7 linked regions of the Homo sapiens genome follow. The protein of the gene in region 1 purifies or fractionates together with the protein of each later gene. This does not show direct contact. Each region holds a gene or a part of one and is shown in the gene's direction. Other genes may lie near its edges. The genes, in order: ZNF418, ZYG11A, PTPN4, UNC13B, MIDN, GPCPD1 and TBC1D14.

Region 1 (4,888 bases):
GAGAATCGCTTGAACCCGGGAGGTGGAGGTTGCAGTGAGCCAAGATGGCGCCACTGCACTCCAGTCTGGGACAGAACGAGACTTTGTCTCAAAAAAAAAAAAAAAAAAAAAGAAAGAAAAACTTCTGTGAAGTGTAAATTTTTTTCACCATCCACTCATGTTTCAATTGACCTATTTCTGTCATCGCAGTTATTAGATAGTCGTTGGTAATAAGTTTCTGTAACTGGCATTTCACCTGTTTTTCTGGTATCATATTAGTTCCTCATGCAGAACACTCCCCGCTGTCACAAGAGAAACAAATGATAATCACTTCCCAGGAAAGATAACAAGCTCGATAATTTAACATACGCCTAGTGTCTCCAGGTGGAGATTATCACCACCATTACCAATACCAAGCTGAGATTTCTCTTTCATTGTTCTTTACCTGAGACTGACTTCAAGTTCCTAAAATGAGTTGAAAATATAAGTTAGAATACCAAGTAAGGGATATTACATGAATAAATGTTTTGCTGAATGAATTGGACACAATAATTGACTATATAAGCAGGAGAGTTGTTTTTCCATGGGAACGACTGATTGACCTTTGTACTCTTTCTTTAGCCTCTCCTCTATCTTCCTTGGCATGGTCCTATCTGGATTAGTTCTCTTTTGTCCCTGGCAGACTGAAAAACCAACTCTAATGCCTCAGAGTGAGGCAGGAGAATAGGGAATTAGGGTAACCAAGAATGAAGGCATAAGCAAAAGAACAGCAGGTGCAGCTAGTTCTAGGCAAGATGAGGCAGCACACAGGCCACGTCCTCACTCCTGTGGTAACAAGACAGAAGTCTCCACTTCAGCCTCTGATTGGTTGTGCACCAGTCCTTCATAGGATTGGAGGCCTTTAAAGAACTCTTGGGGTATTATAAAATTCTAGCTTATTCATGGCAAAAACCGCAATTACTTTTGCACCAACCTAATAAAACCCTAAAAAACATTGTAATCGGGGTTCTTGAGCCGCTTGGTCGCCTGCTCCCACACCTACATTCCACTTCTGTGGAGTGTACTTTCCCCTCAATAAATCTGCGCTTTCATTGGTCCGTTCTTTCGTTGCTTTTTTTGTGTGTTTTGTTCACTTCTTTGTTCAATGCGCCAACAACTGGACAACTCACAGCCAAGACATTCTATCCGGTAACAAGAGTGCATTCATGTGAATTATAACAGAGTAATGTTTATCAGCCTCTGCTTCCAGTGCAAGCATTCTGTGTCTAAACGATTGTATAAAGTGATACACGAATTTGGATTTGTAGCCTTTGGGGGCCTTCACAGTATTTTTAGCGCCTGGGAGCTTGAATTTACAGAAATGTGAATTAATATTTTTGCAAACACTTAGGTGGTCAGTTACAAACAGGGATTCCCCAGGAATCTCAATATGGCCTCTAAGGAGGGGCGAGACCATCCTCTGCCCTAAAAGGGTACGCGCTTTAATGAACCCCCTGAGGTAGGGCTGGGACTTCCCTGCAGAAGCGCCTTTGGGAAGCGGCAGCTTTACTACCTTGGAACCTGGGGAACTACATTACCCAGAAAGCTCTACATTGAATGACAGCGCAACAGAACCAGTAAGGGCTCAGAATAAAGGCGTTTCTGTGTGCGCACGTAACGTAGTGGCGGGATTCTCAGCGTTCTCTGGTAGCGACCATTTTGGTTAATGTTGGGTGTGTTTCTGCGGTTTGTGAGGTGAGAGGCGCTGGAGCTATGGGTCCGAACCGCGGTGTCTGAACCCAGAAGGTGAAGAGTCCTTCTTGCTGCACAGAGGCAGATCTTAGGCCCCGTAACGGCGCCCGCCGCTCCCGGCAGTGCTTTCCCCGCGTACTCGGGATGGCGGCGGCCGCGCTGAGGCTCCCGGCTCAGGTAATTGTGCCTTCCCTGCCCTCAGGTCACCTCATCCTAACCCGAATCCTGAAGCAGCGAGAGAGCGGCGACTGTTCACAGGTCTGCAGCCCGGACCCGGCGTCGGGACACTGAGGCGTTCGCGGGAGAGGTCCTTGTTTCTGACACCTGTGGGATGCGGTGGGGAGAGCGACAGGCACAGGGACCGGCGCGGGCTATGGCCTGGAGGACAGACCCGGGAGGATGGAACCTGGGGTCCACAGGCGCCTGTAGGGAACAACGTGTGAGGCGAAGCTTCTCCTGGAAGAGCAGGCTGGGGGCTGTGTATTCGCTGTGAAGACGCTAGAAGCCATGGAGAGTTTCGAAGAAAGGAGGGATGCGATCCAAGTCCAGGCTTTTAAGGTTTCCCAAAGGCCAAAGGAAGAACATAGTAGAGGAGATGAGGACCTTAGGGTTCTGGGAGGTTGACTCCTTTGTTGATAGATCACATAGGTGGTAGAGATGACATTTTGCACTGAGACACGCAGGTCAACCAGTCTGAGGTCACCTGGCTCCAGCGATAAGAAAAGGTTCAAGGAGACCTGAGCTTATCAGATCCCCTTTGTAACGTCTGCTTTCCCCTCAGACACTCCTGGCTACAAAAGCACGTAAAGAACCCACTGAGGGGGTCGGGCAAGGTGGCTCCCACCTGTAATCCCAGCACTTTGGGAGGCCGAGGCGGGCGGATCACCTGAGGTCGGGAGTTCGAGACCAGCCTGACCAACATGGAGAAACCCCGTCTCTAACAAAAATACAAAATTAGCCAGGCGTGGTGATGCCGCATGACTGTAATCCCAGCTACTCAGAGGCTAAGGCAGGAGAATTGCTTGAACTCGGGAGGCAGAGGTTGCGGTGAGCCATTGCACTCCGGCCTGGGCAACAAGAGCGAAACTCTGGCTCAAAAAAAGGAACCCACAGAGGGAATTAGAGGGTGTTCCATTCCCTCACTGGCCTTATTCCCCATTCACATGTTCTCTAGCTTGTGATGTCCTGGGACTCTTACTTGCCATTTTTTCAGTCCTTTGATCTGAGAACACTGGAGAAACCCTAAACCCAGAATCCTAAGTCCATGACACAGGATGTATGGAGGTATTCCCATTTCTGTCAACCCATGTAAACATACTTTGAAGGTTAACTACAGAGTTGGTACCAGGTCATGAAATGCTTAGAGGTAAAAATTCGGTGGGGAGGCAAGAGGGCGGCGAGGAGGTGATGTTACCACAGTCCCATTTGTCTGCAGGCATCATCTGGCTGCAAAGAAGAGAACACACTGTGTTTGAGGGAGGAGGAAGGAGGATCAGAGTTTAAACTCCTGCCATAATGCAGGTGAGGGTTACTGGACCATATTAATGAGTAAGGAGCTGTGGCTGGATTCAAGATTCACAGTTTGTAAAATGGCAACTAGATTTTCCTTTTTTTTTTGAGCGGGAGTCTCGCTCTATCGCCCAGGCTGGAGTGCAGTGGCACGATCTTGGCTCATTGCAAGCTCTGCCTCCCGGGTTCACGCCATTCTCCTGCCTCAACCTCCCGAGTAGCTGGGACTACAGGCGCCCGTCACCATGCTCAGCTAATTTTTTGGATTTTTTAGTAGAGACGGTTTCACTGTGTTAGCCAGGATAGTCTCAATCTCCTGACCTCGTGATCCATCGGCCTCGGCCTCCCAAAGTGCTGGGATTACAGGCATGAGCCACCAAGCCCGGCCATGCCCGGCTAATTTTTAATATTTTTAGTAGAGATGGGGTTTCACCGTGTTAGCCAGATGGTCTTGATCTCCTGACCTCGTGATCTACCCGTCTCGGCCTCCCAAAGTGCTGGGATTACAGGCGTGAGCCACCAAGCCCGGTCGGTAACTAGATTTTCTAATAGACTGTGAGGGCATGAAAGGGGAATCAGGTATGACCACCAGGTTTTTGGTCTTAGCATCTGCAGTGATGGAAGCTGCATCAACTGAGATGAGCACATAGTAGGTATAATATTCATTGGGGATGTGAAGAATGTTGTTTTGACCATGTTAAGAGTCTGAGATAGTTTAGCCTCCATTATGACATTGACACACTTCAAATTTTCATGGTAAATCTTTTGTGGGGGCCAGGAAGGGGTGGTTGCAGGCTGAGGGCTGAATTTCTTGCTTGGGTCCCTGGCTGACATTGCCACAGGAGAAGGAGGCAAGGGCTCATGAAGATAGGGTATGTCAGACAACATGGTTTGTCAGGGGGCATAGGCTTTCCAAGGGTAGAATAGATAAGAGATGTAAGCAGAAGCATAGAAATAATTGAAGGAAGATGACACTTGGGCCAAGGCTGGTACTTATTCACCACTCTGTGGACTCACCAAGATTTTGAGAAAACTTTGTTGGTGCTTGGGGGTTTTCATTCGGCCTGGTGGATACATGCTCAGGGTAAATTTGGTTATCTGTGACAGACATTGGGCCTGGGGTGGACAGCTGATGGGCTGGGATTTTATTTATTTTTTTCTTTTGTTTTCCACTTTTCTTAGACCATTCTCCATAACAAGGGAGTGGGATTTAAATGACTCTAGGTGGACAGAGGAAAGTCGTCATTGTAGAGGGGTCACCAAGTGCAACACAGAAGTGGAATAGGGCCATGGATATCTAAAGCCCCACCTGGTTCTGTGGGGATGTGGAGCCATGCAAGAAGGCCTTCATAGAATGACTTGGGACTGCATTGCTATTGGGAGCCATGAGAATTCTGTGGTAATATTGGATCCTGTTTGAATTTGCCAAGCATACTCTGAATTCTGTCAGCCACATTGTGGCATAAGGCCGAAAATGAAAGGCCAATGTGATGTGCAACGTTGGTGTGTGGTGATACTGTATGACCTCAAATGGCCTGAGCACAAATCCCCTTCCCACTCTGTTCTATTGGATAATGTATCCTGGCCTAACAACCCTTTTCATTAAGGGATCAGGCACAGTTTCTGGTTATTATACTTTGTACTGGGTTTCAATTCCATTTCTACTCAG
Region 2 (3,500 bases), on another chromosome or scaffold:
TTTACATTTGTGTTCTAGGTCTTCCACAGTGTAGCTTCAAGTTACCTAATGTTTTGTTTTACCATTTTTCAAATTCTTCTCCTCTGTTGGTGGATTTATCCCATCCTTTTTTTCCACTTTCTGTTTTTCTTTATCACTTTCTTTCCCCTAGGAATACCCTGTCCATTCTGCCCCTACATTTATCTCCTCCTGTGTAAATCCTGAGACTCTGCCTAAATGTGCTCTCTCAATGAGTTCTTCTGATTCTCTCCCAGAAATGGCCACTCTTTCCATAACTACCTCAGATGTCACTTCATTGATGCGTCTTTTATGGTGCTTTTCTTCAATTTTATTTTTTGGCATTTCTCACAGTGTTATTACTGTCACAAGGCTTTATGCTAACGAGTAGCTCTCACTCATGTTTGTGTCCCCTGCAGTACCTGTCACAGTAGCTTGTATGGAGTGAGGCTCAATAAATGATTCTGAAGTTAATTTCACAGATAAAGAAATAGAGGTCTAGAGAAAGGAAGTGACTTGGCCAAAGTCACACAGATAGTTAGTGACTCCATTTGGATTAGAAGGCTTTGCTGTAATACTTTGATGTTCTAAAGAATAAATGCTTAGGATAGGGAAAATCTGTTCCTGTCCCAATAAACGAAGATTTGTGCCAATCAAAACATGCACAAGACAGCATAGAGAATGTTACTGGCATCATATGCACTAAAAACAAGTTCATCTTCAGCTTGTGGCTATAGGAATGAGGAATCACCCATTGGATTTGCGAGTGCAGTTCACAGCCAGTGCTTGCGCTCTCAACCTAACACGCCAGGGCCTGGCCAAGGGGATGCCTGTTCGCCTGTTGTCAGAGGTCACCTGTCTACTTTTCAAGGCTCTGAAAAATTTCCCCCATTACCAGCAGGTAATTTCAATTGAATATTTGTTTGTGCTTTTTTTGTTGTTGTTAATAGTCTCAGCTCTGTTGCCCAGGCCAGAGTGCCGTGGCACAATTTGTTTTTGTTTTTTTAAAGACAGAGTCTCTCTCTGTCGCCCAGGCTGGAGTGCGGTGGCACGATCTCAGCTCACTGTAACCTCTGCCTCCCGGGTTCAAGCAATTCTCCTGCTTCAGCCTCCTGAGTAGCTGGGATTACAGGCGTGCACCACGACGCCCAGCTAATTTTTGTATTTTTAGTAGAGACGGGGTTTCACCATGTTGGTCAGGCTGGTCTCGAACTCCTGGCCTCATGAGCCATGGCATACGGCAGACAATTTGTGTTTTCTAACTTTAGGATAAATATGTGAAAAATAGATATTATTTAGTTCTGGTTTTTCATCCTATTAGAGAAAGAGAATAGATAAAAGAGTGTGTTTGTTATAGAAAAAATAGGAAATATAGATAAGCAGTGAGGCTAAAATTTTCTTTTTTTTGAGAGATTTTCCTTCTTGTTGCCCAGGGTGGAGTGCAGTGGTATGATCTCGGCTCACCGCAACCTCCGCCTCCTGGGTTCGTGCCATTCTCCTACCTCAGCCTCCCGAGTATCTTAGACTACAGGCGCTCGCCACCATGCCTGGCTAATTTTTTTTTTTTTTGTATTTTTAGTAGAGATGGGTTTCACCGTGTTAGCCAGGATGGTCTCGATCTCCTGACCTCATGATCTGCCCACCTTGGTGTCCCAAAATTCTGGGATTACAGACGTGAGCCCCCGCGCCTGGCCTACACTCATTTTTATTTTTATTATTTTTTTTGAGACGGAGTCATTCTGTTGCCGAGGCTAGAGTGCAGTAGCACGATCTTGGCTCACTGCAACCTCTGCCTCCTGCCTCAGCCTCCTGAGTAGCTGGGATTACAGGCGCATGCCACCATGCCTGGTTGATTTTGTATTTTTAGTATAGATGTGGTTTCACCATGTTGGCCAGGGTGGTCTCGAACTCCTGAACTCAGGTGATCCACTGCCTTGGCCTCCCAAAGTGCTGGGATTACAGGAGGGAGCCACCATGCCTGGCTCCCTCCCCCACAACACACATTTTTAAAATGAAAAGGTAGATGATAGACTGGGAAACATGTTCATTATATATATATGAGAATCAACTTCATTCAGAGTATATAAAGAACTCAACTTGTTAATACAGTACAAATCAGTTATAAAAATGATCAAAAGATTTGAACACTTTGGTAGTTTCTTTAGGAATTAAATATACACTTCATAAACTACCTAGTCATTCCACTCCTAGGTATTTACTGAAGATAAATGAAAGCATGTATCCATATAAAGATATTTACACAAATATTCATGGTACCTTTATTTATTGCCAAAAACTTGAAACATCCCAAATGTCCAACAACAGGCGAATAGAAGCATTGTAATAAATCTATTTAGGGAAACACTACTTGGCACACAGAGATGAAGTACTGATATCTGCAGTGTAGATGAAACTCAAAAATGTTATATGTTGAGCAAAACAGGCCAAACTCAAAAGAGCAGAAGTACATGATTCCATTTGCATAACACCTTAAAAAAACTAATCTATAATGACTGTAATTTTCCGAGGATAGGGTTTACAGGGTTGAGACTAACTTGAAGAGGGGACAATGGAACTCTCTGGGGGTGATAGAAGTATTATATCTTGATTGTAGGAGTGGTTACACAGGGGTATAAATTTGTGAAATCTAATACAAATGTGTACTTTGTAAAGGGAGTTTTTTTTTTTTTTTTTTTTTTGAGATGGAGTCTCGCTCTGTCGCCCAGGCTGGAGTGCAGTGGCACAATCTTGGCTCACTGCAAGCTCCGCCTCCCGGGTTCATGCCATTCTCCTGCCTCAGCCTCCCGAGTAGCTGGGACTACAGGCACCCACCACCACGCCCGGCTAATTTTTTGTATTTTTAGTAGAGACGGGGTTTCACTGTGCTAGCCAGGTTGGTCTCGATCTCCTGACCTCGTGATCCGCCTGCCTCTGCCTCCCAAAGTGCTGGGATTACAGGCATGAGCCACCGCACCCGGCCAAGGGAGTTGATTTTTTAAAAATACAGTTAGGAAGGTGGTTTTCCTCATTTATTTCTACCTTATTTTTAAAGTTGGAAAATCCTACTCAAGTCTTCATTCCTGCATGGCAGTCATCAGTTACAGCATTAAATGAAAATTTAATGCTGGTACACAAATGAGCTCTCAATAAGAAAAGCTCACTAGTAATACTTCCAAATACATGGAATCTTTGTTTAGAATGGAATGTTACATTTGTTCAAAATTATTTTTCTTTATTCTCTAAAAGTTACAGAAGAATTGTCTTCTCTCCTTAACCAATTCCAGGATTCTTGTGGATGTTCCATTTGACAGGCAAGTATAAGACTTGGTCATTTGACTGGGGTGTTGGCCTTTGGTTATTAAATGCAGAGGCCTGATTAAGGCTGGGATAAGGTGTTTGGAGAGAAGGTTCTGTTGAGCATCTTCCACAGAGAAGTGATTAGAAGTACCCTACTAGAAAATGTTGTCTCCTAAAGTGATTCTAGTATAGGATAGTGGGTAAGA
Region 3 (3,462 bases), on another chromosome or scaffold:
ATAAAATGTTATTTGTGTGTCTTTCATGCTGTAAAGAAAATGAATGTATCTTTCAAATGTCATTAGAATTATGGCTTGATTCTAAGGATACTCTATTTGTTTTAAAGTCTACACGGGATTGAAAAGAAAGGGAAGAGTATTACACTTCATTGTACAAAATGTAATTTTAGAAGAAAAACATTTTCATTATAAACAAGAGCAATCATTGAAGCATTTTCAGATATAATGTACATTCTTTTTCATTTTGCTTTGCCTCTAGAATAGAAACTTTTCAGAAAATTTGCACATACTGTTTGTAAGTATAAAATAATTGAATTCTAGACTTTTGGAGTGTGGAAGGGTGTTTGTGTGTGAAGGTAATAAATGTGTTGCTGCATGTGTTTACCATAGAGAACGTTGCCAGGCTTTGTCAAATGAGGACATTGTTGTGAGGGTGTGACTTTTGTGAAGCCAGAAAACTGTGCCTAAGATTCATTACAGTGAGTATGTGCAGAGGCCCCTGACCCAGTAAATGCTTTTTGCCTTTTTATTCCCAATGTCTTGGACAGTTGAGACAACTTGGCCCAACTCTGAATTGTAGCAGTGATGTCTTATATGCTTACGAGTTTATATTAATTCAGCTGAACAAGAACTACATCTTAAACCACCTTTGTAGGTATGATTAATACGTGCAACAGCTGCTTTAAAAGGTGGTATTTATTATTCATCACTCATGAAACTTGACTCAGTGAGGACTTCATTATTTTTATTTCTCTTTCCACGTCTCCAACTTTTTAAAAATCACTAATTTAACTCTTTGTTAAGTACTCAAGTACAAAGTGATCTCTTCTTTCATGAACTTTGCTATAACTGTTGAAAGGATTGGTGTCAGGCTCTCTCAACCCTGGGAGTTTCCAAAATTTAGCAAATATTACTTGTGATAAGCTTAAATGCCACATCGCTAAGTACAATTATTACCAGGAATCCGTCAAGGGGGAGATAGCCCCGCTCACACCCTTAGACCCAAACAGGTGCTGGTTCATGCTTTCTCCACAAATTGGCAGTTGGGTACTTCCCCACTGTCATCACAGTTGAGCTCATTTTAACATATATTCAAAGAAGCTTTTTAGTTTCTACTCCTGAATTGTAGTGTTCAAGTTATTTGCCTTCCTGGGTAAGAAAATTTTAACCCAAGTCTGGGATTCTCTGGCACCTGTCTTTTCCCATCTTTTAATGAGTTGGCAAGATTAGGTCAAATTTCAATGCTAAATTTGATTTTTTGAATTTTAAATAGTTGCACTTTATTTCATGCTGACCACCAACTTAATTTATACATTTTAAAATAAAATTATCCTAGAAGTGTTGTAAACGTGGGAAAATTTTAATTAGTGTTGGAGGTCATTAGATTGGACCCAGGTTTAAATATAATGATCTCTTCACAGCTTATTTGATGTTTAAGAGCAACTTGTGTGATCTTAGCTTTGCAGGTTTTCTGTAATTTATGTAGCACAATAAAGGATAACCAGTTGACTGTGTTACTGGACTCTGAGTTCTCACAGCTAGTTTCATCTAAGCTTGGTTTATTATCATTTCTGCTTTGGATTTTTTTGTGCATCACATGAATACTTAGAAATCCATTTGTTTTCAGTGTAGTACCTAGGGTGAAGTAGATGCTGCACAAGTAAGTTTAAGGGAATAAAAGTCCCGACACTTTATATACATGTTGAGGGGCACGATTTAAGAGACTGAAACAGTTTACATTAAACTGTTTTTATTTTCTGCCAGTAGACTCTATCTGCTTAAAAAAATAAAAATTGTTCAACCCAGTGTTCTCCAGCATCAGGACATTACAGTTGTAATCTATGTTGTAATCTTTTCAAATAAGAAAAGCTACTCCTTATTCTCTACAGTGTAGGCTTAATTTTAGAACCGATAATTTACTATATCTGCATTATTGATATTTTTAAGTAGTAGTTTTAAAAATAATTATTTCTATGTGGAGGGTGTTTTAATTTGGGATTTTTTTTTTCTTGTAACAGGTGCTATTTGTAAATATGAAGGGGAAAAGTCACTTAGTTAAAAGTCTAGCTTATGTCATAATTAAGATACAATTATTCATTTCATGTTTGATTCTATTAAACTAGTGGCAAAACAGAATTGGTCCCTTAGTTTTTTAGATTACCTTTCCCCCTATATCACAAAAATATCTCTTTCCATATGATCTCATAATTGAGGCAAAGAAGCTAAGGGTTTATTTAAAATGTGTATAAGCTTGAATTTGGTCAACACTGCATAATTTGAAATCACTCTGCATTTGTCACTGCAGCTTACTGTATGCTTGAAAGGCCTTGTGTGTTTGTCTTAATTTTAGTGAAAAAATTAGAATTTCTGCCATTCATGTACAAAAAAATTACAACTACAGCAAACAAGATAAAAATGCTGGTTTGCATTAATACTGTTTTAGTCTTAAGAGCAATTTATATTATGTGAAATGCTGTTACACATATTTTGTTGGCCATATTTCATTTTGAGAAACAGTTGTTCAGGTACAAACATGACAAACAACTCTAGCTATGACTCTTAATGTTCAATTGCAAAATAAAGATGTGCTTTAGTAATCTAAAGTACAGAAGTTTTGAAGATTATTTTATGGGAGTTTTTCATGGGCTTTTCTAACAGTGGTTATATTTAGTAACTGGTTATCAGGAATGGAGAGAATGACAAGTGTAAAATTTATTTCTGGAGTTATTGACTCACATAGTGGCTGTATTTGAGGAAAGGGAGTAGGTGAGGAACTAAAAGGGATTTAGAAGATTAAATAGTGTCTGAAGAGGCCGGGCGCGGTGGCTCACGCCTGTAATCCCAGCATTTTGGGAGGCTGAGGCGGGCAGATCACAAGGTCAGGAGATCGAGATCATCCTGGCCAACATGGAGAAACCCCGTCTCTACTAAAAATACAAAAATTAGCTGAGGGTGGTGGCGCACGCCTGTAGTCCCAGCTACTTAGGAGGCTGAGGCAGGAGGATCACTTGAACCTGGGAGGTGGAGGTTGCAGTGAGCCGAGATTGATTGCGCCACTGCACCCCAGCCTGGTGACAAAGTGAAACTCCATCTCAAAAAAAAAAAAAAAAAACAGTGAAGAGAAGATTCTGTTTAATTGTGGCCATTGCTTGGCTCCTGTCCTCTCCCAGTACCAACCCTCTATTCTGGTAATCCTAAGGTAAGACCTTGTCAAGCAAAATAAAGGACCTCTCCTTCTATCCCTGAAGTCAGCTTGCCTAAGTGCAGTTAGATATGCTGTTTTTCCTCTGAAAGAAAAGAAGTACCTAGAGAACAGGTAATAAATAAAGCAGAAAGGTGATTTTTGATTATGCCATGCCTTTGTTCTTATGTACATAATAAAAATTCAAACACTGTAATGAAGATCAAAATGATTTTTAACATCCTCTTCCTCATGCTCCACCCTAAGAAAAGCCCTCTCAA
Region 4 (4,223 bases), on another chromosome or scaffold:
GTTGGTAGTACTTTGAAGTTTGATAAGAGTGAATCCTTAGAGGCTTTGGCCATGCAGAAAGTGAATCAGCAGTCAGATTTAGCAGAGCTCACAAATGATGGCTTTCAGTCATTAATCATGAGTAAGCAATTAGAGGGTAACTCCCCAAATGTGGAAAAAAGTCTTCTTAAGGATTCAGAAAGACAGATAGTATCCAATGTTCAGCATCCAGAATTGATCAAAAATATAAGGCAAGAATTCTCTTTAAATAAAAACAACCATGTGAAAAAGCAAAGTTTGTTAAAATCTGGTTTCCAGGTAAGCCAAACAACTCCTCAGGCTAAATCAGGTGTAAAAGATGATGAAATCATTACAACAGACTCTATTTCAGTTTCTCCTGCACCTCAGCATAGTGGGGATGAGCGTGAGAATTATGAGCTTCCCCAGGGCCAGTCATCCAAAGAGTCTGATAAAACATTATTTAAAAGTTCATTGAAACTCTTCAGTCAAGAAGAATCGTCAGTTAGTATGACAGCAAATGAAAAACAGTCATCTGGATTTTTGAATCTTTTTAAGACTCAGGTGAATAAAGAAGGATCACCAAACTTAGAAAAGATTGGTGATACAAATGTCAAGATACCACCTCAAGAAAAGAAAGAATCTTCTGGTGTTTCAAATTTTTGGGGTACCCTTGGGGATTTCTTTAAAGCCAATGTATCTCCTATACAGACAACTGAAAATACGTCTGTTTCTTCAATGACTATTAAGGATGAGGTCAGGTCAAGTCCTACTCCTATGGAGCTAGCTAGCCAGGGTGCTGGGAACTTTCCTGCTGCACCAATTTCCTCTAAAGGGAAGGCTAGAGTTAGAAGACTGAACAAACAGACTACTATCGATGACAGTAGGTTAGAGGAATCAACTAGAGGGATCCAGGGTAATGATTTGACTGAAAAAGAGGTACCATTCAGAGACCATCTAATCCAGCAGTCACCTAATTCATCTTTTTCAACAAGTAGTCTCAAAGAGTCTTCCAGGGAGTCTTCAGTAGAAACTAGTGGTGTGACTACAGTGACAGAAGTTTCAAAAAGTAATGAAATATCCTTTGATACCCTGAGCAAGAGAAATTCAAATGAACAAGATCATTTTTCTGACAAAGACTGGAGTTTCTCTATGGCTGCAACATCTTCATCTCAACCAGAGTTATCAACCAAAAAGAGTATATTTTCTTTTCTCACTGGATCTGAAAAATCTGAGAACAGAGCCTCTGCTACTCTACCAAGAGCCAAATCTCAGGCAGAAGGGCTATTCACACTTCCTTCATTTTTTTCCACTGCTAGCTCAAGCATTAAGAAGGATGCCTCTCATAGTAGTTCTACTTTTAGTTTCTTCAGCTTGTCCTTTTTGGATCAAAAAAAGGAGACCTCTGGGGAAAAACAAAGCATTTCAACTGTTGTTCCAGTGACCTCCCAGCCCTGTAAGAAGACAAATGTTTTTGTAGAGAGTGGTAGCACAATGACCAGAGAAAGTTCCAGTGGTCATAGAGATAGCATAGCCCAAGAAGTAGTTCATGAACAGCAAATGGCACCTTGTATTTCCATTAACAACACCATTGAGGTTACCTCCCTTGCAGATGAGCTCAGTGTAGACAAGGACTGTCAGGAAAAACTGAGTTCCAATATTGTACCAGGGACATCAGTGGATTTCCAGATGAATGAATTGCAAAAAGACATTATTCCTCCTTCACCAGAATTTCAGGCACAGGCTGAAACATTCCTCACTGGCCCAGAGAACCTTGGGATAGCTCCCCATGAAGAAGAGGCTTTCAACCACAAAGCCTTCCCCAGTGACTCACTGTCCAACTCTTTTTCACATGCTAAACAGTTAATTGAAAAATTCAATGATTTAGACACTTGTACTAACTGCCACCAAAATGAGAAATTTACTACTGACCCAGTGAACTTGCCATTAGAAAAGGCCCCCGATGAGGTCTTACCACAGATCCTAGAGCCAGCCTCTTCCTCTCCAGAGCCAGGGTGTGCAGGGAACCTTCAGAACCAAGATGCAGATAAAGAGGAAGACAAATTTGCATTAGGCTCTTCAGTAGACATGCTTTCAGGGTTTGTGACCAAAGTGAAATCTTTCTCTGGGAGCTTAATTGAACCTCCCAAAACACTCTCTGGACTTTTCTCCTCTCCTAAATCTCCAAAGAAAAACTCCTTTTTCTCTCTTGCTTCTGATGTATCATCTCAGCCCCTCAAAGGTGAATTATTTGGAATTTTCAAAAGTCCCAAGCCAGAGCCATACAAACAAGAATCATCTCTCCCAGCTACTTCATGGCTTCAAAATGGTTGTTCCAGAGATGCTGTAGGATCAGTACCTCCAGAAAGGAGAGAAGCTGCCTTTACAGCACTAAGTTCAGAATCTACTCTCAGTGACTGTAGAATGACTGTGGTTAGTGCAAAGCCAGAATCAGATATCTTGACAGATGATCCTAAACTAACAACCAAAATGGAAGACAATAATACTCCTGAAAATATTCTGGAACCTCAACGTTCTGAAACAATTAATACATCTTCTTTCTCGGGTGATGATACTGGGCAAGGAGTATTGTCTCTGAGTGATGAAGGAGACATGGGGATATTGCAAGCTACAGACACGGAGGCATCGTTAGAAGCAGAGAACTTTGCGCTGCCAGCACAGTTGCATCCAGATCCTACCTGCATTGCCGAAGAGCTTCCTCCTCCCATTCAGCCACCTCTTCCTCTTGAGCCAGAGCCAGCTATTCAAACTGCCTCCACAAACCAAGACTTACTGGAGCTGCATCCAGCCAGTTCACTAGAAACTGATACTATGCTGTTCAATGATGCAAGTGTGAGCCAGAGCACCACTCTGGAAACCGAAGGGCACTTTTCTCATCCTCTGCTGGAGGACCCTGTGCTTGCTGCCAGAGAAAGTTGTGAGATAATTCATGCCCAGAAAGATCCACCTGTAGTACCCCAGGAAACAGAGCAGTCAAGACCACGTTTTGAGATCCCAAATGTGACCACTTGGCCAAAGCTTCGTTTGCCATCCTCTGCTACTAACCATGGGAAACCACTGAGCTCTTTCTTTTCCTCACCTCTCCCCTCTGGCAATAGAGCAGCAGAGACTGGTTTAATGTCCAGTTTTAAGAAGTTGTCAACTCTATTTGAGGGAAGTAGTGAGGGGAAAGGGAGTGTATTAGCAAGTGATTCAAAACTAGGATTTGGAAAGGTAGATCTTTCATTTCCATGGCCAAAAGAGAACAAAGGGGTCCCTGAACAAATGCCTACAGAATCCTCCCCTCCAGTTTTAGTTACTAGCAGTGATCAGGACCTTAACTCCAGTGAGGCTAACAAAGCTTTGAAGTCTTCTCAAATATCTGGGGCCAGTGCTCAGCCAGGTAAAGTCTACACTCAGCCCTCTGGGACCTCTGAGCAGCTGGTGGCCAGTCCAGAGGTCTGTGCTCAGGGGCTTTCAGGGTCTGGAGAAGGGGGAAACCAGCAGGAAATCTCAGCATCTGGAGAACACTGGGATACCAAAGCCAACCTGTCTAGCCCCGCCTGTCCTTCAGGGAAACATGAGGAAGAACCCTCCACTGTCTCTGAGATATTTCACCAGCTAGAAAAACAAGAAGAGGAGGCAGTACCTGCCAGTACTGACTCTGATTTGAATGTACAGCAGCCAGTCACTCTGAATGACATCAAGGAGCCCATGACCAACAAAAGGCCTGTTCTTAACTCAAGCATCATAAATGGCTTTAAGGAATTGACCATTTATGATGCAAGTGACTTAGTGGTAGATTAATCATAGCTTGCTTTTTATCCTTCTTGTGTCTTTCCTAGTACCCGAGCTTCATGTTAATTAGGGGTTAAATAACAAGAACTCAGTGTGTGGGTATTTTCATCCTCCCCTTCTCTCTCTGCCAAATGTAATTCATTTACTGGAACAAGGAGCTTCCTGCTTAAAGCAAAAGCTGGGCCCCCGATATTTACTCACTCTGGTTTGCTCTGCCTTGTATAATGTGAAATGGAGAAAGGAGGGCAGGAAGAGGTAGTAAGTAGTTGGTGGTATATATTAACTACAACTACATGATAGGCTAGGATGCTTCCTTGGGCCTTAGGCACTTATATCTTGTAGGAGATGGGGATAGATCTATTTTGCTTTGTTTTTTCAAGTCTTCTAAGATGCTTTCTCCAGTGGCAATGAGTGTATTAAGCAAAATA
Region 5 (4,891 bases), about 57 Mb from region 1:
TTTTTTTTTTTTTTTTTTTTTTTGAGAGGAGTTTCGCTCTTATTGCCCAGGCTGGAGTGCAATGGCACAATCTCAGCTCACCACAATCTCCGTCTCCCGGGTTCGAGCAATGCTCCCGCCTCAGCCTCCCAAGTAGCTGAGATTACAGGCGCACATCACCACGCCTGGCTAATTTTTGTGTTTTTAGTACAGACAGGGTTTCACCATGTTGATCAGGCTGGTCTCGAACTCCTGACCTCGTGATCCGCCCGCCTCGGCCTCCCAAAGTGCCAGGATTACAGGCATGAGCCACCGCGCCCGGCCTTTTTTTTTTTTTTTTTTTTTTTTGAGACGGAATCTCGTTTTGTCGCTCAGGCTGGAGTGCCCTGGCACGATCTGGGTTTATTGTAACCTCCGCCTCCCGCGTTCAAGCGATTCTCCTGCCTCAGCCTCCTGAGTAGCTGGGACTACAGACACATGCCACCATGCCCAGCTAATTTTTGTATTTTTAGTAGAGACAGGGTTTCACCATGTTGGCCAGGCTGGTCTCAATCTCTTGACCTTGTGATCCGCCCGCCTCGGCCTCCCAAAGTGCTGGGATTACAGGCGTGAGCCACCGCGCCCGACCGCATCATCTTTTTTATGTGACAAACTCCTAGTCATTCCTCAAACCGCAGCCCCTGTGACCCCCTTCCAAGGGTTATCCCAGCCTCTCCCTCTCTGGCCTAGCCCTGACCCTTCGGGGCTGGGTGTGCCTGTCAAGGTGGGGGCCACGGCTGCCGGGAGCATGGGTGGCAGCCGGAAGGAGACCTGGGGAGGAGCGCAGCCCTGGGAGGGGCGCCCATGGCCAGGGTGGGGGTGGAGGTGGTCAGGCCAGATAAAGGGAGGGGCCAGATGAGTGGACAGGAGGTGCTCCCGTAGGAATGGGGTCCCCTTCTCTAAATAGAGGGGCAGGACGGGGCCCACCTCAACCAGGACCATCCTCAAAAAGCCGACGGGGAAGGGTGAGATGCACACCACATTCGTGTCTCATTGGCTGTGGCCTCAGTTTCTTCATCTGTAAAATGGGGTAATGCCCACCCCAAAGGCTGGGAACCAGTGCATGTCCTGCATTAATGGGGGGTGATGGCCCCAAAGTGATCCTGCCGCATCCCCTCACCACACTCCCACCCACCCTGGAGAAACTGAGGCTTGGAGAGGCCAGTTACCTCCCGGGGTCACAGCATAGCCGGCTGGTGACTGGCTGGGCACAAGGCAGGCCTGGCACTGGCTAATCGCTCCATAAATGCCCTCTGAGGTCACCATTGACAGATGCAGGAGGCCAGGGCTGGCCAGGGCACCCCCACTCTACGGCAGGTGACTCCAGCCTGTTTTCCTGGACGACAGCCGCTGACTCAGGCCCCTCTTCCCGTCCCCCCCACGCGGGCGCCCCCAGGCGGAAGCACCGGGCCTGGGGCGACAGGAAGGGGGCGGGGCAGCGAGTCGCGCTGTACACCCCAAAACCCTGTCCCGCTGACGATTCGGGGTGCATCTCAGCCCGCGGCGAGGCGGGCCGAGACCCTTGGCTCGGGGCATTCAAGGGGAGTCCCCCCATGAACTGCGCCAAGCCTGGGTCCCGGGTGGCCCAGCCGTCAAGGCGCCCCAGGGCCAGGGCCGGCAGGCAGGGGCGGGGGCCAGTCTGCGTCACCGCCCGCCCGGCCCCCCGCCCCCCTGCCCGCCCTAACTCCACCCCGAGGGAAGGCGGCGCGGATAAAGGCTGAGGGCCGCGCGCTTGGCCCAGACCGGCCCGGCCAGCGCGCATTCGGCCCCGGACGAAGGTACTCGCAGCACTTGGAGCGCAGAACCGGCCGCGCCCGGTGAGTGTGGAGGGGGGGGACCTGCGGGCCGAGGAAGGGTGCCCACTCTAGATGGCTCAGGATGCCCGCACTTTTCTTTGTTCTTGGGACAGGAGGGATCGGGGAGCCTCCGGTCCTGGGAAGCCCCCCGGGGTGCGGGGTGGGAGGGGCTCCGCGCAGCCAGCGCCGCCCTGGCCGGACCTCAGCCCCCGCCCCGCCCCCCGGGGCACTCCCCCTTCACCGCGGGTGACCTTGAACTGGTTGCCGTTCCGCCCTCCGTTGCCCAGCCACACGGTCCCAGTCTCCCGACTACAGTCTTTCGTTCCCGATCGGGGTTCCTCCCCCGCGCGCAGCCCAGTCGTCTTCCTCCCCTGCCAGGGGCAGCGCGGCGCCCCCTCCCCGGGACTCCGGGCGGCGCTCCCAGGCGGGCCCGGCAGAGGGCGCGCCCGAGCTGCTGACTCACCGCATCCCCGAGCGCGCGCGGGCGCAGCCGGGGACGCCGCGTCACGTCACGGCTCGAGCGGGCGCGCCTCGGGGAAACGGGTTCTGCCCGCGGCCGGCGGGTGGGCGCGCGGGGCCCCCGGCGGCAGCCACCCGGCCACGTCACCGAGGTGCGGGCGCCCCGCCCCGGCCACAACTCCGCCCCCACGCACCACGCCCTCCCCGGGGCCGCGGCCCTAGCCTCACCGTCGCCCGCCCGCCCCGGGACCCCGGCCACGAGGCGCGGACTTCGCGCTCCCGCTTCCGCTCGCGGCTTTTCCCGGACGAAGGCGGCGGGGTGGCCCCACGACTTCCTGCCCCTCCCGGCGCCGGGAACAATGGCCCGCGCCCCCTCCCGCTCCCGGCCGCTCCCTTGGGATCGCGAGGGGTACCAGACCCGTCTCCAGACCTGGGTCCCGCGCCCCCCGGGGCGCGCCCGCCCTTTGTTGCGGGCTCCGGGCGCTTATGAATGGCTGCGGGCGCGGGCGGGGCGGGGGCGGGCGCGGAGAGGCGCCAGCCCCGCCCCCGCTGCGCTCCCCTTGGTCGCCTGGGCGCTGGGGGCGGGGCGAGGGGGCGGGCCCGGCTGCCACGTGGGGCGGTGCCGCGGCGGCTCTCATAGGCCCGGGCTCGCGGCCGACTGGGCGCTCGGCGCGCGGCGATTGGCCGGCGCCCGGCCGGCGGAGTAAGTAGTGAATGGGAGGGGGCGGCGGCCCCGCCCCCTGGAACGTTGATACATTATAACTTTTTTTTCTTGTTACTTTCACCCCCAGATCCTCCGAGCGGCGGCGACGGCTGTTGCTAAGGGAGGGGACGCGCGAGGAAGCGCGACCCGGGCGGCAGACGGCACCCAGCGCCACCAGCCGAGCGGCGCCCCCTCCCCAGGACCCTTAACCGCGCCGCGTCCCGGTCGCGCCCGCCGCCCTTTGAAGGAGAAGCAAGTGCCGTCCCCACCCCCGGAAGGCGCCCCCAGGAGCCGGAGCGACCTCGGAGCGCCACTCGGATTTTGGATTTCGGTCTCGCATTCCGCGGCCGGGACTTTCTCGAGGAGGACGCGCGCTGCTCCGCGCCCCCGAGTGCCCGGAGGACCCGGCATCCGGGGAGCCTCTCGCCCCTGTCCCGGAGGCGCGGCGAGGATTGGCGGCGCCCGCCGCCCCCAGCCCCCCAGCGCGCGCCGGGGATGGAGCCGCAGCCCGGCGGCGCCCGGAGCTGCCGGCGCGGGGCCCCCGGCGGCGCCTGCGAGCTGGGCCCGGCGGCCGAGGCGGCGCCCATGAGCCTCGCCATCCACAGCACCACGGGCACCCGCTACGACCTGGCCGTGCCGCCCGACGAGACGGTGGAGGGGCTGCGCAAGCGGTTGTCCCAGCGCCTCAAAGTGCCCAAGGAGCGCCTGGCTCTTCTCCACAAAGACACGTAGGTACCGCGCGCCCCCGGCCGGCCGCCCCCTCGGGCCCCGGCCCCCGGGCGGGAACAAAGAGCGCGCCGCGCGGGGAAGGCAGGGGGCGGCCAGACAGGGGGCGGGGGCGCGCCGCGCGCTCTCGGGCGCCCTCTGCTCGGCCTCGCCTGCCTCGGCCCCCTCCCCCGCCCGGGGTCGCCGCACAAAGGCGGCTGCGAGGGCGTCCCGGGCCGGGCTTCGGCGGCCCCCCTTGGGGGCGGGCAGGAATCCCAGGGCGTTGCGGGGGTCCCGGCTGCGGGTGTGGGGGCCGCCACCGCCCCCTCCCGCCTGCGTCCGCGCCGGCTTCCGCATCTGCTCGGCGGCCTCCTCTGCGTCTGGCTGTCTCCCCCCACTTGCGTCTCTCTCCCCCCCTTTGTTCTCGCCTCCGAGCGCTCCCCGCAGCCTCCCCTCCCCCCTGGTATTTAAATCGCCTGCAGGCCCGGAGCCCTCCCCCCGCGGGCCTCCGGGGACACGCAGTGTCCATCCCAGTGGAGGGGCCCATCGGGGGAGGGGCGGAGGGGGAGGGTCTCCTTTGTCTGCGCGGCGGCGGCCGCCTGCGCCGGGGAGGGAGGAGGAGGGGGAGCCCGGCCCGGCGCAACCCCCAGGGCCTCTCCTCGGGCCGAAACCCGTGGTTCCTACAAAGAGGAGCCAGGACTAGAATTAGGGAATTGGGGGCAGGGGCTGCCCTGGGGTCGTGGGGGAAGGTGGCATAGAGCACACTGGGGCCCAGAGGAGGAGAAAGTGCCTGGTTGGGGTGCAGAGGGGGTGCCAGAGTCCAGGGCGGGGGTTCCACTGGAGGGAAGGGGTCCGAATCGCCAGGATGGGGCTCCCAGCACCAGACGGAGACCTCTCTGCACGCGCTTAGGGCCCTGGATCTGGAAGCCGGGAAGGGGTGGGGGTGGGAACTTATCCGTCTCTCCCCACACAAGCACAGCCCTCCCCCGCGGCCTCTGCTTCCGCGTCCCTGTGTCGTCTCCGCGGAGTCTCATGCTCTTCCTTCCTCCCCCCAGCCGGCTCAGTTCGGGGAAGCTGCAGGAGTTCGGCGTGGGTGATGGCAGCAAGCTGACCTTGGTACCCACCGTGGAAGCGGGCCTCATGGTAAATGGCCATGGGGCTGCGTGCCCCCAGAGGCCCCCGCACACAGGCAGTAGCCCCTCCCTCGGTA
Region 6 (4,223 bases), on another chromosome or scaffold:
CAAGAAAGTTCTTCCTGGCTTGGAGCTTTAAAGAGGAAGAATTGAGTTGGAATTTGGGGAGTGGTTATGTTTACTTTGACAAGATTTGTGTTCTAGGCAGAGGCAAGAGTGTAAATCAGGGCATGACTGTTGAGGGTTTCAGGGAGGTGGCCAGGCACTGGATTCCTAATAGGGTCTGAGGAGGGGAAAGGTGGGTTATGTTGAGTTGGTTTTTACCCTCAACATTTTTTTTTAATTTTATTCAAAAAAGCATGTGTATATAGTTTTAAAATTCAAATAGTTTGATAAGTCTTATAATAAAATACCAATAATTTCTTGTACCTATTTCTTCCATTGTCTCTGGCTGAGACCGTGTCCCCTCAAATCTTTATTTGGCTCTTCTGGCAGTTACCTCTATTTCTAAATAATCTGCTTATGCTATTTTTTCCATTATCAAATTTAGATATCACATAGAAGGTTTTGAATGATTAGTGACTTGGAGCCTTTGAGGCATTTTGGATTGGAGAGAGGTGTGGTGAGAGTGTGTGAGTGTGTTTTCAATTATCAAACACTCAACTGCTACATATCATTTTCTGGTATTTTGTTTGGAAAATTTGCACTTAGGATGATGAGTAAGAGGCCGTTCTTTTTATTTTTTTGAGACAGAGTCTTTGTCACCCAGGCTGGAGTGCAGTGGCACTGTCTCGGCTCACTGCAACCTGGGTTCAAGTGATTCTCCTGCCTTACCCTCCAGCTCCTGGGTTCAAGTGATTCTCCTGCCCCAGCTGTAGTTTTGTATAGTTTCAAGCTTTAAATATACTTCATAAAACTTGTAATTATGTTCTTAAAATTAACATATTGTTGCATGTAGCTATACCTTACTCCTTTTCGTGGTCTTGTTAATATTCCATTGTTGTCTTTACCACAACTTAGACTGCTATTTAGGAACATTTAGGTTGCTGCCAAGTAATTGCTATTTTATAGTGTTGCTGTGAACATTATTGATAGTACAATGACTTTCAAACCTTTTTGCACCCAGCTTATTTTATGCGGCAACCCAGTACACAGATAAGGTATATTTACAAGTATGCACCTGAAACAATTCCAAGTGTCCTTTAGATACTTCCTGTTCATGCGTGTACTTCTTTGTGTGTGTGCGCTTAAATGCTAGTCTTAACTTTCCGAACTGTTTGTGTGACCCGCTAGGTCTCTAGCTCAGCACATCTGCCTGTGGGTCAGGCATAGGAGGTATAGCAGGAGTGGGCTGTCCTGTATTTCCTGGTTCTACACTCACTGTAGCCTGTTACCAGTTCTCAGGAGTAGGCCAAAGCATTATAATCCTGCAGGTAATGTGGAAACTTAATCAGCACATGGTTAGACCATATTTAAGTAATATGCCAGTTCAGGCTCATGAGGGCACTCTGTTCTTAGGTTAACATAGCTGCTAGAGTGACAGTGTCTCTCTCGGAGTAATAGCCCTCAATACGTCTGCCTCTCCACCGGGCTGCTCCAGTACTGATTGGTTGATTGTGCACAGCTGTCATCCTGTGCCCTGCCATTCTCTGTGTTAGATCTCCTGTTTCCTGTAGCTCATATCTTTTCCTCTCTTGGTTCAATGAGTTTTATGGGACATGTCTTTCAGCATCTTCTTAAGAAAGGTGGACACAGGAGGTAAATGTTTTTGAGGTTTTATATGTCCAGAAATATCATGGCTGTGTATAGAACTCTATGTTAGAAATACTTTAGAATTTTAGAAACATTCTCCATCATCTTTACCATTCCAGTGTTGTTGCTCAGTGTGAAGCCACCTTGATTATGTTCTCACACATGTAATCTGTGTTTCCTGTTTGGAAGCTTTGAGGGTCTTCCTTTTATTACCAGAGTTTGGGAATTCTATAGAGATGTGTTTTCTTGTGGGTCTGGCTTTGCCCACTTTGCTGGACACTTGGTAACCCTTTTAGTCTGTCAATACATGTTCTTAAACACAGGAAAATTTTTTCAAAAATAATTCTTTTGATTTTTGACCCTTTCAATTTTCTTGATTTTTTTCTTTATAGAAGTCTTTTTGTTTGAATCAAATAGCTCTTGGACCAGATTTTTGATTTTTTTTTCCTCCTATTTTGTCTTTTTTTTTTTTTTTTTGCTTCATTTGAAAGGTTTTCTCAATCTTACTTTCTACTCATTCTGTTGAGCTTTTATGTTTTTTGTTTGTTTGCTTTGTTTGTTTTTTTTTTGAGATAGTCTCACTCTATCATCCAGGCTGGGGTTCAGTGGTGCGATCTGGGCTCACTGCAACCTCTGTCTACTGGGTTCAAGCAAATTCTCATGCCTCAGTCTCCCAAGTAGCTGGGCCTACAGGCGCACGCCACCATGCCTGGCTAATTTTTTGTATTTTAGTAGAGACAGGGTTTCGCCATGTTGCCCAGGCTGGTCTTGAACTCCTGAGCTCAGGCAATTTGCCTTTCTTGTCCTCCCAAAGTGCTGGGATTACTGGTGTGAGCCACCGTGCCTGGCCTCTGTTGAGTTTTTCATGTCTGCTATTGTGTCTTTAATTTCCAAGAACTATCTTTTTTTCTCTGAATGCATTTTTTTCCATATATTTAGCATCCTATTCTCATTTAATGAACATGCTATTTCCCTGAAGTCATTAAGGATTTTTTTTTTTTTTTTTTTTTTTGAGGCAGGTTCTCTCTCACTCTGCTGCCCAGGTTGGAGTGCAGTGGCACAATCTCAGCTCACTGCTCCCTTGACCTCCTGAGTTCCAGTCCTCCCACCTCAGTGAATGAGACTTCTCTTACATCTTAGCAACATTTGGATGGAAATTAAATTTAAATCCAGTCCACTCTAGTAGTTTTTGAAGAGGCTTTGATTCAGCTCCAAAATCTCGATTGCTTGACTTGGTCTCTTATGAGAATACTCAGAAGAATACTCAGAAGGTGTCTTCTTAAACAACAAACCTATTTTTAGTGGTGGAGCTGTTTTTAGTAGCTGTGTCTGCATGGGACTGATAACCAATCACGATGTTTGGAGGAAGTCCTAACCTTTCCTTGTATACCCTCTCTATATGTGTAACAGCTTCTCTGTTTTCACATTCAGTAGTCCATACTGCTATCTTATCACCTTTAGCTCTAACATTAAGAACAGCTGCACATATATCATCACTGAGTCATCAAAAGATTCTCCAATAAGACACAGTAGAGTCTCTAGCCAAAAGTGATTGAGGTCCCTTCATCTCTGCTGTTTGTTCAATGTAAATTAGCCATCATCCTCCCTGTTTGTTTTTCTCATCTTCCCACATGGGCTCAACACCATCCTTAAAAAGTGAGTAGTCACAGCCAGACATTAAATTACTAGACAACTGGATATGGTTGTACAGAGCCCAAAAGTCAACAGGATCAAACTTAGAGATCAGCGGCAGGTTTGCTTGTCAAGTTTTGCTTTTATCTTTTTTAAAAAAACCAGAGTGCCCATCTGTTCTGTAGAGGATGTTTAATATAGTGTTCTGGGTTAGCAACCTCCTGATTAGATTCTGTTTTCTCCTCTTCACAGGGGGATTAGGAGTAGGGGTGGTTTCTGGTTTGACAGTCCGCCGTCTTACATCGATCTGCTCCTGCTTTTAACTCTGCTCTTGTTTCCTACCACTGGCCTGGGAGCCAGCCTTTTCAGTTCTCTCACTGACAAACTTTCAGTTCTTATTTATCCATCTGTTTTCCAGCTTTCAAAATGTTGTAGCTTTGTCTCTTGGGTTTTTCTCTTACTTACGGATTTTATTGAAAAGAATCTTTGTTTTATTTTTAATGGAATATAGGGAGAGAACGAAGTTAGATGCTTCTGTTCTGTCTTGATACCTTGACCCAGAGGTCATTTTTCATTCTCTTAGATATGTCTTTAATAATTAATAGAAACTCTTTGTTTTAATACAGTCAGATATTTATTAGAGTCACCATATTTTTTATCGTGTTGAAAAAATTCTTTCCTACTGTGATGTCATAAAGATTCTCTGATACTGCCTTACATAGTTGCCTGGCTGTCACATTCAGGCACAGGAGGCCATCTTTTCTCTGCTGATGGGTAGTGCCAGTGTCAGGTCACCAGAGGCTCTTTCAGAGTTCTCCACTCTGGACGTGTCTGACGTTATTGAGCAGCTTTAGAGTAGTTCCCACGCTGGTAAGCAGTCTTCTTATCTCGATCTTTAGTGACTTTGAAGTCAGAGCAGTCAGTTTTTTATAGATTTCCATTTGTTA
Region 7 (3,500 bases), on another chromosome or scaffold:
TTTGAATTTTATATCCACTTTAATTTCCATGTTTGTGTTTTTTCTAGTTTCTCCTTGGACCAAGATGACTGATGGAAAACTCTCCACCTCTACAAATGGCGTAGCCTTCATGGGTATTCTGGATGGTCGACCAGGAAACCCCCTTCAGAACCTGCAACACGTCAATCTCAAGGCGCCCCGACTCCTCTCCGCGCCTGAGTACGGGCCCAAGCTGAAACTCAGGGCTTTAGAAGACCGGCACAGCCTCCAGTCCGTGGACTCGGGGATTCCTACCCTGGAGATCGGGAACCCGGAGCCTGTACCCTGCAGCGCGGTCCACGTGAGGAGGAAGCAGTCCGACTCCGACCTCATCCCCGAGCGGGCCTTCCAGAGCGCCTGCGCGCTGCCATCCTGTGCGCCACCAGCTCCTAGCAGCACCGAGCGGGAACAGAGCGTGCGCAAATCCTCCACGTTTCCCAGGACAGGCTATGACTCGGTAAAGCTCTATAGCCCGACCTCCAAAGCCCTGACCCGCAGCGATGATGTCTCCGTCTGCAGCGTGTCCAGTCTTGGGACAGAGCTGTCCACCACGCTGTCCGTCAGCAATGAGGACATCTTGGACCTTGTGGTCACGAGCAGCTCCAGTGCCATTGTGACCCTGGAGAATGACGATGACCCACAGTTTACCAACGTCACCTTGAGCTCTATCAAGGAAACCCGTGGCTTACACCAGCAGGACTGTGTTCATGAAGCTGAGGAGGGGAGTAAATTGAAAATATTGGGGCCATTTAGTAACTTCTTTGCAAGGTAATGCCATCTTTGCCCTCTAGAAGATCGTGGTGGTTGAGTCCAGACCAGTCTCCTTGTTCCTGTCTCAAATGTGTTGTGTGTTCTCTGTGGTGTTAGGCAGGCACTGTCTCACACAGATAATTGGGTCTTTTCCCAGAAGCCCGGAATCCTGTGGGATTGTGAGAACTGGTCTGTTGGGGATTCTGTTCTTCGGTGTCCCTGGCTCATTTGCAGTCTGTTGTCACATCTCTGCCTCTGACCTGCTGTGGCTGTCCCACAGGTGGCCAGTGTTACCAAATCAGCAGCCTGAGCCTCTGCGGGGCCCTGTGCACTCATAACTTAACGTTTCTTGGGCCAAGCAGAGGGCACTGGTGAGGGTGACGCCAGTGAGTAACTCTCATTTCTACTGCCAGCCCCTGCTGGCATAGTGCAGTGCTGGCATGCCGGGTGTTCCAGCCGTGTCCCCGTGCCCCTGGATGGCTGTGCTCTCGTGTGCCTGTCCTGGCCCTGCCTCTGCTGTGGAGGTGTGTGCTCTGCTGCACTGCAGCCCCATGCATTCCCAACGTGCTGGGCCTGGCCATGCACTCCGTCCCCATGGGGCCTTGTCACCTGAGTGCTGGAGTTCCTGTGTCTCCCTGAAGCCCTGGGGGGGCCGCGCCTTCAGCTTCTGCCTCTCGTTTGTGCTCTCATGCTTTTGTTCAACAAGTGCCTATTTCCTAGGCCCTGTTCTAGGCTGGTCATGTGGGGTAATACGGTGAGAGAAACGATGTTGGGTCATGACTTAGGGTGGGCTTGTGGCCTGGGGGTGGTGGGAGTGGACACCTTCGTCACACAAGCAAATGTGAACTCCCGAACGGTGGCGTGCTGGGAGGAAGGGCACAGGGGCTGTGGAGAGTACGTGTAGAATTGAGATCTGTGGCTGGGTGCAGTGGGTCACTCCTGTAATCTCAACACTTTGGGAGGCTGAGGTGGGTGGAGCACCTGAGGTCCGGAGTTCGAGACCAGTCTGGCCAACATGGCAAAACCCCGTCTCTACTAAAAATACAAAAATTAGCCAGGTATGGTGGTGCACGCCTGTATTCCCAGCTACTTGGGAGGAGGAGGCAGAGGTTGCGGTGAGCCGAGATCGCGCCACCGCACTCCAGCCTGGGCGACAGAATGAGACTCCATCTCAAAAAAACAAACAAACAAAAAAAGAATCGTGATCTGCTCCATAGCTGCTCTTTGGAGGGCTCTGGGGCCGGGGCTTGGCAGGTGGGAACATTTCTGCAGTTGACCCTGGCTGCCCCGTGTGTGTGTCTCTAGCAGAACCCACGTCAGACATTGCAGTACCGGGTGTCCCTTTGAGATGGTGTGGTGTGCCGGCTGGAGTCAGCTGGCGACTCTGACTGTGGCCAACACATTACCACTGCCTTAGTTGCTTCATCAACTAAAGGGGATCATCTCGGACCAGCCTAAGGCCAGTCCTGAGTGAGATGATCTGTGGTGTGGTCTGTGGTTTTGTCGGGAAACTTTCTTCTCGAATGTGCTGACAGATAGGTATCTTGGTACCATGAGCACAGTTCCTGGTCTCAGAATGCAGTAACTCAGCGATTGCCCTCAGTGGGAGGAACCTGGGAACTTTGGGGGAGATCTTGTCACTATCCCTTCTGAGGCTGTAGCCATATCGCGGTGTTGCTGTGGTTAGATTTGTGTGGCGGAACTTCCCCGTGCTCAGACGAGTGTGTTCAACTGTCCCTGCTTATGAACAACACCTGGTACCCGTTCCACGCGGACCTCAGGATCCATCCAGACATACAGAATCAGAAGCTCAGCGAGAAGGGCCTGAGGATGGGTTTTCAGAAATGTGGGAAACCTTGCTTGAAATGGGTTTGGCCGGGAAACAGCATGGTGGAAGGAGTGTGGCTTTGGAATTCAACCGACCTGTGCCATGTCCAGCTCTGTGCCCTTGAACAAGTTCCTTCACCTCCCAGTCAGTTTTCTCACCCCTAGAACCGTGCGCGGAGGAGCGTGGCCCGTGTGCCCATTATGCTGTTGACGAACGCCACACGCTCACCTTTGTCCTCGCACGTTCTGTCTCCGCTGCCTCACCTGAGAAGTGGGGATAATGAGCCCTTCCTTCCGTGGCAGTGGGGATTAAAATGGGTTAGCATGTGAGAAATTTAATGCAGATCCAGACACGTAGTAAACTTTTAAGTATGAGTTGCTTGTGGCGATCATGGCCACGTTGCTCTTTCTGCCGCCGTTGTGATTCAGCTGACTGAGCTGTGTATATTGGATTCTCTTCCCCTTTGAAAGGAAGCATCGTTGGTTATGCAATTTCTAGATCATTTCTAAAGCTACCGTTTCTTGGAAGTCATACTCAGCTTTGTGCTGCAGGAAACAAGTGTCTCTTCTTTTATTCCTTGGTTCCTTATCCTCGTTGTGATGGCTGTGACATTGTTATTGTGAGCCTCTCTGAACTACCTTTGGGAAGATAATGGAATATAATGAAAAATGACTTAAAACAAGTGATGACATGGGCAGAGTCTAGGGTTCTTTTGTCCTAGAGTCTTAAAAATGTTAGAGAAGAGTTTCCATGTAGAGTTCCTTTGAGGGGAAAGGGTTTCTGTGCCAGAATCTTTAGAGCTCACTAAACATTTTACAGGTGAGTAAATGGAGTTACAGTGAATGTTCATCAATTCAGCCCAGGGCCTGGCCCACAGCAGGTACCCAGAGGACTGTGGGCATCG

Evidence for each region.
Region 2: the proteins of ZNF418 (region 1) and ZYG11A purify together in Homo sapiens (affinity purification with mass spectrometry; one large-scale study listed by BioGRID and IntAct). This does not show direct contact.
Region 3: the proteins of ZNF418 (region 1) and PTPN4 purify together in Homo sapiens (affinity purification with mass spectrometry; one large-scale study listed by BioGRID and IntAct). This does not show direct contact.
Region 4: the proteins of ZNF418 (region 1) and UNC13B purify together in Homo sapiens (affinity purification with mass spectrometry; one large-scale study listed by BioGRID and IntAct). This does not show direct contact.
Region 5: the proteins of ZNF418 (region 1) and MIDN purify together in Homo sapiens (affinity purification with mass spectrometry; one large-scale study listed by BioGRID and IntAct). This does not show direct contact.
Region 6: the proteins of ZNF418 (region 1) and GPCPD1 purify together in Homo sapiens (affinity purification with mass spectrometry; one large-scale study listed by BioGRID and IntAct). This does not show direct contact.
Region 7: the proteins of ZNF418 (region 1) and TBC1D14 purify together in Homo sapiens (affinity purification with mass spectrometry; one large-scale study listed by BioGRID and IntAct). This does not show direct contact.

The regions. Positions count from the first base shown.
Region 1 is NC_000019.10:57,932,160-57,937,047, reverse strand, and holds the start of ZNF418 (zinc finger protein 418), read left to right. Parts: upstream 1-1,645; 5' UTR 1,646-1,854; coding exon of another isoform or gene 1,855-1,887; intron 1,888-1,912; exon of another isoform or gene 1,913-2,994; intron 2,995-3,145; 5' UTR 3,146-3,225; coding exon 3,226-3,231; intron 3,232-4,401; exon of another isoform or gene 4,402-4,552; coding exon of another isoform or gene 4,553-4,618; intron 4,619-4,888. UniProt on the Homo sapiens protein: Transcriptional repressor. May play a role as regulator of the ubiquitin-proteasome system and autophagy-lysosomal pathway.
Region 2 is NC_000001.11:52,863,260-52,866,759, forward strand, and holds part of ZYG11A (protein zyg-11 homolog A), read left to right. Parts: intron 1-721; coding exon 722-898; intron 899-3,243; coding exon 3,244-3,308; intron 3,309-3,500. UniProt on the Homo sapiens protein: Probably acts as a target recruitment subunit in an E3 ubiquitin ligase complex ZYGA-CUL2-elongin BC.
Region 3 is NC_000002.12:119,982,297-119,985,758, forward strand, and holds the end of PTPN4 (tyrosine-protein phosphatase non-receptor type 4), read left to right. Parts: 3' UTR 1-2,603; downstream 2,604-3,462. UniProt on the Homo sapiens protein: Phosphatase that plays a role in immunity, learning, synaptic plasticity or cell homeostasis. Regulates neuronal cell homeostasis by protecting neurons against apoptosis.
Region 4 is NC_000009.12:35,304,688-35,308,910, forward strand, and holds part of UNC13B (protein unc-13 homolog B), read left to right. Parts: coding exon 1-3,725; intron 3,726-4,223. UniProt on the Homo sapiens protein: Plays a role in vesicle maturation during exocytosis as a target of the diacylglycerol second messenger pathway.
Region 5 is NC_000019.10:1,246,826-1,251,716, forward strand, and holds the start of MIDN (midnolin), read left to right. Parts: upstream 1-1,757; 5' UTR 1,758-1,835; intron 1,836-3,062; exon of another isoform or gene 3,063-3,064; 5' UTR 3,065-3,471; coding exon 3,472-3,704; intron 3,705-4,736; coding exon 4,737-4,824; intron 4,825-4,891. UniProt on the Homo sapiens protein: Facilitates the ubiquitin-independent proteasomal degradation of stimulus-induced transcription factors such as FOSB, EGR1, NR4A1, and IRF4 to the proteasome for degradation. Promotes also the degradation of other substrates such as CBX4.
Region 6 is NC_000020.11:5,548,182-5,552,404, reverse strand, and holds part of GPCPD1 (glycerophosphocholine phosphodiesterase GPCPD1), read left to right. Parts: intron 1-4,223. UniProt on the Homo sapiens protein: May be involved in the negative regulation of skeletal muscle differentiation, independently of its glycerophosphocholine phosphodiesterase activity.
Region 7 is NC_000004.12:6,923,326-6,926,825, forward strand, and holds part of TBC1D14 (TBC1 domain family member 14), read left to right. Parts: intron 1-47; 5' UTR 48-64; coding exon 65-786; intron 787-3,500. UniProt on the Homo sapiens protein: Plays a role in the regulation of starvation-induced autophagosome formation.